2 linked regions of the Homo sapiens genome follow. The protein of the gene in region 2 purifies or fractionates together with the protein of the main gene of each other region. This does not show direct contact. Each region holds a gene or a part of one and is shown on either strand. Other genes may lie near its edges.

Region 1 (3,935 bases), on a different chromosome or scaffold from region 2:
TTATATTGCTATATACTTTGTCTTTTTTTTTTTTTTTTTTTTTTTTTGAGACAAGAGTCTCGCTGTGTTGCTCAGGCTGGAGTGTAATTGGGCGATCTCAGCTCACTGCAACCTCCACCTCCCGGGTTCAAGCGACTCTCCTGCTTCAGCCCTCCTGAGTAACTGGGATTACAGGCACGCACCACCATGCCTGGCTAATTTTTGGATTTTTTTGGGTTTTTTGTGACAGAGATTCACTCTTGTTGCCCAGGCTGGAGTGCAGTGGCGTGACCTCCGTTCGCTGCAACCTCTGCCTCCAGGGTTCAAGCGATTCTCCTGCCTCAGCCTCCAGAGGAGCTGGGATTGCAGATGCCCACCACCACGCCCAGCTAATTCTGTAGTTTTGTAGAGATGGGGTTTCACCATCTTGGCCAGGCTGGTCTCGAACCCTGACCTCAGTGATCCACCCACCTCGGCCTCCCAAAGTGCTGGGATTACAGAATGAGCCACAGCACGCGGCCTGTTCTCATAATTTGTTTGATAATATCTAAGATTTTTGGAAGCAGTCATTTGCTACCACTCTGTTGGCTATTTTTTAGGCCCCTTAAATCTCATTTTAAAAAAAGCGACACCACTGGCTGGGCATGGTGGCTCACACCTGTAATCCCAGCACTCTGGGAGGCCAAGGCAGGTGGATCACCACCTGAGGTTTGCAGTTCAAGACCAGCGTGACCAACATGGTGAAACCCCATCTCTACTAAAAATACAAAATTAGCCGGGTTTGGTGGCACATGCCTGTAATCCCAGCTACTTGGGAGGCTGAGGCAGGAGAATCGCTTGAACCCGGGAGGTGGAGGTTGCTGTGAGCTGAGACCACGCCATGGCTCTCCAGCCTGGGCAATAAGAGGGAAACTCCGTCTCAAGAAAAAAAAAAAAAAAACCACAACAAAAAAACACGACACCATAAATCAGAGGCAATTTGTGGTCAGTTTGCAACATTATACCAACATGTAAACAAGCATTTAAAATGGGTGATTTCTCAAAGATCTGCTCTGACCAACAGCTAACTTTAGTTAGCTGCACAAAGACTAGATTCTTCTTACCTCTCCTTTCTCTCTGCATCCTTCCTCCTCCTCCAAAAAACATATCAAAGATGTCCATGGGGGAGCCAAAACCGCCACCTGCTCCACCCTCTTTAATTGCCTGTTCTCCTCCTTTGTCATATAATTCCCTTTTCTTTGCATCAGAGAGAACTTCGTAAGCTTGAGAAATCTGTTTAAACTGTTTGAGAAAAGAGGAGTGAATTTCATTTTTTAAAAAACAAGTGTTACCTAGCTACATTACACTTGATCTTAGCTAAAAAGGCCGAGAAGTGATCATAGTTACTATATTAGATACTCGATTTCAGGCCATAATAGAAATACTATACGTCTGGCAAAGAACTATTCAGATACGTTTAAGAGTAGATACTATTCACCTTCTCTCCTTCATTTGGGTTCTTATCAGGATGGTACTTCAAAGCCAGTTTCCTATAAGCCTTTTTCAATTCTTCCTGAGTAGCATTGGGTTTGACCCCCAAAACATCGTAGTAAGTTGTTTCTTTCACCATCTTCTACTGCCTGAAATAAGAAAATGCAACTTTAACCGGCTTTCAACTGGTAGCTTTTAATAAAAAAGAGAGCTAAGGCCGAGCAATCTCTTTGCAAAATCCGATTATAAGAACACCACCTTCCCTAAATTTCACCAAAAAGGTAACAATTCCTGCGATAATTCAGCTATAAACTCGAACAGACAAAACAAATAATCATTATCGGGAAATAATCTGAGAGCCGCCTTCTAGCAGCTGGTTCCAATTTTCCTACACCAAAGCTTCCATACTAATATAACACAACTATTATCTGGATTCTTCCCGTTTGCCCTAGAGGCGGTGACAGTTGTAACCAAAAGAAGCACTGATATGTTCAGTCTACCGGTCATTACACTATCACTGTCTTTGGCAAATCTGATAAACTCCATATACTCTCCAGAAAAAGACGTCTGGGCACACAGTGGTGGGGGGGAGTGGTTTATAGAACAGGTTACTGGCTCCACACAGCAAGCCCTCCACCGCCCACGGCTTACAGCTTCTCCAGCCGAATCCCTCTCGCCCCTCAGGCTGGCAGAGTTTACCTGCCAGGTTTCCCCTTGCACTTGGCGCTGACCGATTTCCTTCCTTTCTCCCTCCCACCCTGGACCCAAGTGGCGGTGGGGAAAGCCCAGCCCTCAACAAACAAAGGGAGGGGAAACAGAGAAAGCGAAACCAAAAGCCGCAGTCTCCGCCCGGCTCCCCCCGCAGCCCCTCGCCCCTGCCTCCCTGTGCGCGTGCGCAGGGTCGCCAACCCCACTCCCCCCCCCCACCCCGAGCGAGCACGGACGGGGAGGGGGGCCGCGGGGGCGCGCACGGAGGGGCAGCCGAAGACAGTAGCTCCTTGGAGATCCCAGGCTGGGGAAGGAGGGAGGTCTAGGAAAGGTCTCGGGCCCATTCACTGTGCGTGCCGGGGATGGGTTGCCAGGGCACCACACCAGCCCTCCAAAAGGGAAATCGTGGGCCCAGGAACTGACAGCGGTCCTACCCACGCGGCCAACTGCCTCCCGACCGCGGCTCCATCGGTTTCCCGGCGCCAATGGCGCCAGCCAGGGGACTAGGGGCAGCGCGAGGGCTCAAACTCACCGGTGCGGGCTGAGGCCGGTGTGTGAGGGAGCGGGAAGGAGCGCCGAGCTGTGCGCAGCCGGGGTAGTTACCGCTCCTCCGCCTCTCACCGAGCGTTCTGGAAAGTTCCGCCCGGCGCGCCGCAGCCGTCCTCTTTTGTAGCCGAACCCGGGCGCGTCACCCGCCGGAAGTCCCGCCCTTCTCGGCCGCTGCCACCGCCCCGCCGTTACCTGGGCAACGGCGCGGGGGCGCACGGGTCGGGAGGAGCTGCGCCGAAAGGCCTTGTGGGTGTTGGTGCTAGCGCGGCTTCCCGGCGCTCGTGGAATCTTCTGGAGCCCTTTTCTCCACTCAGCGAGCCTGAGAGTGCGGAAGTCTCCGGCTGGTGGGGCATGGCCCAGGAGCACTGCAAGTCCTAGGGTTCCCAAACCTGTGGGGTGGCCGCCTGGGCCCGCGAGGGCGGGAAGGGCTCGAGTACAGTGACCCAGCGGGAGCTGTGTGTGAACGGGAAAGCTCTTGGAACAGTCTTGCCCCCCCCCCCCCCCCTCTTACGGGCGCCTCTTCTCTTTTTGGGAACGTGGCGAGCAAAAAATGCTTGAGCCAGGTGGGTCTAGTCCCCAGACCAATAGCATAGGCCTTGGGTCTTGCTGTTTTTCACGCGTGGTCCAAGGCGGCATAATTAATCAAATTGTGAAGTTGTTAAGGCTTTTTGTGCAAGTCCAGGCCCCTAGACACATGTTATCTGCCCTGGACCTCGCTGATTCGTGCAGATTGAGCTCAGTGTGTCTGGGACTGAGCTAAACAGTGAGACGTTTGGACCGTCTTTGATGTACAGAGGGCCGTGGACTCCTCTGGTCAGGTTTTCACCCAGTTTGGCTACAGAGTAGCCGCAAGAGTGTCTGACTAAAACAATTTGTTTAATTATTTGACCTCACTTTTAAATCCTACGGGTCAGGGAACCTGGATGTACAATCTGCAACGTAAGACCTCGGACTTGAAAATGGTACCACGGGGGCTTAATGGGAATTGGGGTCCGCTTCTTTATCCAGGGACACAGCAGGTATGTCAGTATCTAGCACCAAGAAAGATGGAGTTTGCCACGCTCGGTGGCTCACGTGTGTAATCCCAGCACTTTGGGACGCCAGCGTGGGCTGATTGCGTGAGCTCAGAAGTTTGATACCAGCCCAAGCAACATGGTGAAACCCCGTCTCGATTTAAAACAAAAACAGAACTGGAGATGCAGAGTTGAAAAGCCCCAGTTAGACTTTAG
Region 2 (3,500 bases):
AGAGAAGAACTGGGAGAGACGGGATTTGACCCACAAATATTTGAAGATCTTATTCACTGATTAACCGTTGGGTTAGAGTGAACCTCAAATTACTGCTTTATTTTTTCTGATTAGGATAATGCTTCAAAGTGTTTGTTTATCCTTTCAGTAGATAGTAAAAAACAAATATAAATAAATAAATAACAAACTATTTGTTTAAAGAAATTAAATAATACAGAAGTGTCTGAAGCAGTGAGTCTCCTCTAATTTCCATTACCTCAAAAATAAGTGTTGACAGTTTAGGTTATATCCTTACAGATTTTCTCTATAGATGTCTGAATTTTTATTATTATTGTTATAATTATTAATAACACACTGCCTAATGGAATAATTCTCCACATGTTCTTCGACAACTTGCTTTATTCATTTAACAGCATATCTGGGACATTTCTCCATGTTAGTACCTCTTAAAGTATCTCGTTCTTTGTAGTATTCAATTTTATGACTGTACCTCTGGTTATTTAACCCCAGGACTTTTAAGATGCCTGCCAGTTTTTGCTATTACAGGCACTTCTACTGTGAATAGTCTAGTAAATATGTAATTCTGCACTTCTCTGAGTCTATCTGTAGGATGAATTTCTAACAGTGGGTTGCTTGGGCCAGAGAGTCAGCATACTTTAAAGTCTGGTATACACTGCCAGACTTCCCTCCAGGAGGGGACCAGCTTACCCTTCCTGCAGAAAGTGATTGAGCAAGTCCTTGTCAGTAGGAGACATTACTAAGTACATGTCGAGTATCCCTTATATGAAGTGCTTGGAACCAGAAGTATTTCACATTTCAGATTTTTTCAGATTTTGAAATATTTATATTATACTTAGTGGTTGAGCATCCTTAATCTGAAAACCCAAAATCCGAAATACCCCAATGAGCATTTCCTTTGAGCATCATGTTGGCCTTCAAAAAGTTTAGGATTTTAGGGCCGGGTGAAGTAGCTCACTCCTGTAATCCCAGTACTTTGGGAGGCCGAGGCGGATCACCTGAGGTCAGGAGTTCAAGATCAGCTTGGCCAACATGGTGAAACCCCGTCTCTACAAAAATACAGAAAAATTAGCCAGGCGTGGTGGCACACACCTGTATTTCCAGCTACTCAGGAGGCTGAGGCAGGAGAATCACTTGAACCCAGGAGGCAGAGGTTGCAGTGAGCTGAGATCGCACCACTGCACTCCAGCCTGGGTGATAGACTGAGACCCCATCTAAAAAAAAAAAAAAAGTTTAGGATTTTACAGCATTTCAGATTTCAGATTTCTAGATTAGGGATGCTCAACCTGTAGTAGTTTTATCTAGCCTTCTTCCTAGCTGACTACAGAGAATCCACTTATCCAAGATCTGAAGAATCCAATTTAGGTTGGTTGTTCTCTAGACATTGCTTTATTATTTTGCAGCATTCAGTGTTCCTGACAGGTGTCTGCTTTTCATTCCTTTCCAAGTAATCTACTTTCCTCTCTGCAAGGTTATCTTGGTGTTCTTTTTTTTTTTTTTTTAAATTATTAGACAGGGTATCACTCTGTCACCCAGGCTGGAGTATAGTAGCATGATCATAGCCCACTGTAACCTCAAACTCCTGGGCTCAAGCAATCCTCCTGCCTCAGCCTCCCAAGTAGCTAGGACTGCAGGCATGTGCCACCACACCCAGCTAATTTTTTAAATTATTTGTAGAGACAGGGTCTCACTATATTGCCCAGACTGGTCTCGAACTCCTGACCTCAAGTGTCCTCCCACTGCAGCCTCTCAAAGCACTGAGATTACAGGCATGAGCCACTGTACCTAGCCTTGATGTTCTAAACTTTTACCCTGGCCTTTTCACTCTGTTTAATAGTAGGTAGACATTTTACATCTGAAGATTCATGCTTTTCTTAAACTCTTGGAAATTATTTTCTATTAGATCTTTGATAATTTCTTCTTTGTTTTCTCTGTTCTCTTTCTAGGACTTCTGTTAGTCAGATGTTAGACTTCCTGGGTTGATCCTCTATGTCTCTCTCTTTTTTATTATTTATTTATTTATTTATTTATTTATTTTTTTTGAGACAAGGTCTTGCTCTGTTGCCCAGACTGGAGTACAGTGGCACAAATACGACTCACTGCAGCCTCGACCTCCCGGGCTCAAGCAATCCTCATGCCTCAGCCTCCTGAGTAGCTGGGACCACAGGTGCACACCAGCATACCCAGCTAATTTTTTAATCTTTTGTAGAGATGGGGTCTCACCATGTTGCCCAGGCTTCTTATTTTTTATCTTATGTTTTCTGTCTCTTTTTTCTTTTGCTGTGACCTGGGAGATTTTGTCAACTTTATCTTCAAGCCCTTCTGTTGAATTATGTATTTAGATATCCTGTTAAACTCCAAAAGCTCTTTCTTCCTCTCTGTTTCTATGTCCTCTCATACCTGATCTTGTTTTTATAGAGTATGGATTAGAAGTGCCGGCTGGGTGCGGTGGCTCATGCCTGTAATCCCAGCACTTTGGGAGGCCGAGGTGAGTGGATCACTTGAGGCCAGGAGTTCGAGACCAGTCTGGCCAACATGGTGAAACCCCATCTCTACTAAAAATACAAAAATTACCCAGACGTGATGGTGCGCACCTGTAATCCCAGCTACTCAGGAGGCTGAGGCAGGAGAATCGCTTGAACCCAGGAGGCGGAGGTTGCAGTGAGACAAGATCATGCCACTGCACTCCAGCCTGGGCGATAGAGGGAGACCCTGTCTCAAAAAAGGAAGTGCCTTAAGTTTCTTCTGTTGTCTGAGTTATGTCTCTTTATTCTGAGGCTGGTTGAATTATTTTTTTCTTGGTCCTTCTCTTTTATGCTGATGGTTTTCCTCAAATGTCTAGCAATCCTTATTTGGCTATTTATACCCAAGAATGAAGGCCCATTGTAGGGGGCTGTCAGAGGACTACTCTGCTGCAGTGTTTGTAGGTCTGTTTTCCTGAAAGGCATTTCCCCAGAATGGGGACAGGGAATGTCCACTGACAGGTTGCAACTTTAGCGAGTGTGGGCAAGGACCCGGGCATTAGATGGGATCCTGCCAGATGTCAGAACAAAGGAGGCCTCTTCTTTGGGGTAACATCTCTTTTTTCCCTCAGCCTTTCCAAAGTGTATCTGTTGTACTTATCTTTTCCAGTGTAGCTTTGGGCTTTGTTGGTCATCTCTACTGTTTTATTATGGTGGGTTTTTAATACTTCATTAATTTTTCTGGTTTTATCTTTATTAATGTTTTCCTCCGACGTTCTTTATTTTGTTCATTTCTGGCTTCTGGAATTTAATGCTTCAACATTTATCAACTCATTGGCCGATCTCATTTCATCTATACCTGTACCCACTGCCCTCTTCCTGTTTTCCTTCAAAGCTAATCCCAGATACCATATAATTTCTCCTGTAAATATTTCAGAATGCATCTCTAAAACATAAGTACACTTTTTTAGAAAAGCATTACCTTAGTATCAATACCTGAAAATTAACAATAATTATTTT

What was found. Proteins that work in one complex are often made in the same cells at the same time.
Region 1: the proteins of HDAC6 (region 2) and DNAJA1 purify together in Homo sapiens (affinity purification with mass spectrometry; 4 studies listed by BioGRID and IntAct, with this or other methods). This does not show direct contact.

The regions. Positions count from the first base shown.
Region 1 is NC_000009.12:33,024,138-33,028,072, reverse strand, and holds the start of DNAJA1 (dnaJ homolog subfamily A member 1), read right to left. Parts: upstream 2,801-3,935; 5' UTR 2,690-2,800; intron 1,599-2,689; 5' UTR 1,589-1,598; coding exon 1,457-1,588; intron 1,261-1,456; coding exon 1,083-1,260; intron 1-1,082.
Region 2 is NC_000023.11:48,808,567-48,812,066, forward strand, and holds part of HDAC6 (protein deacetylase HDAC6), read left to right. Parts: intron 1-3,500.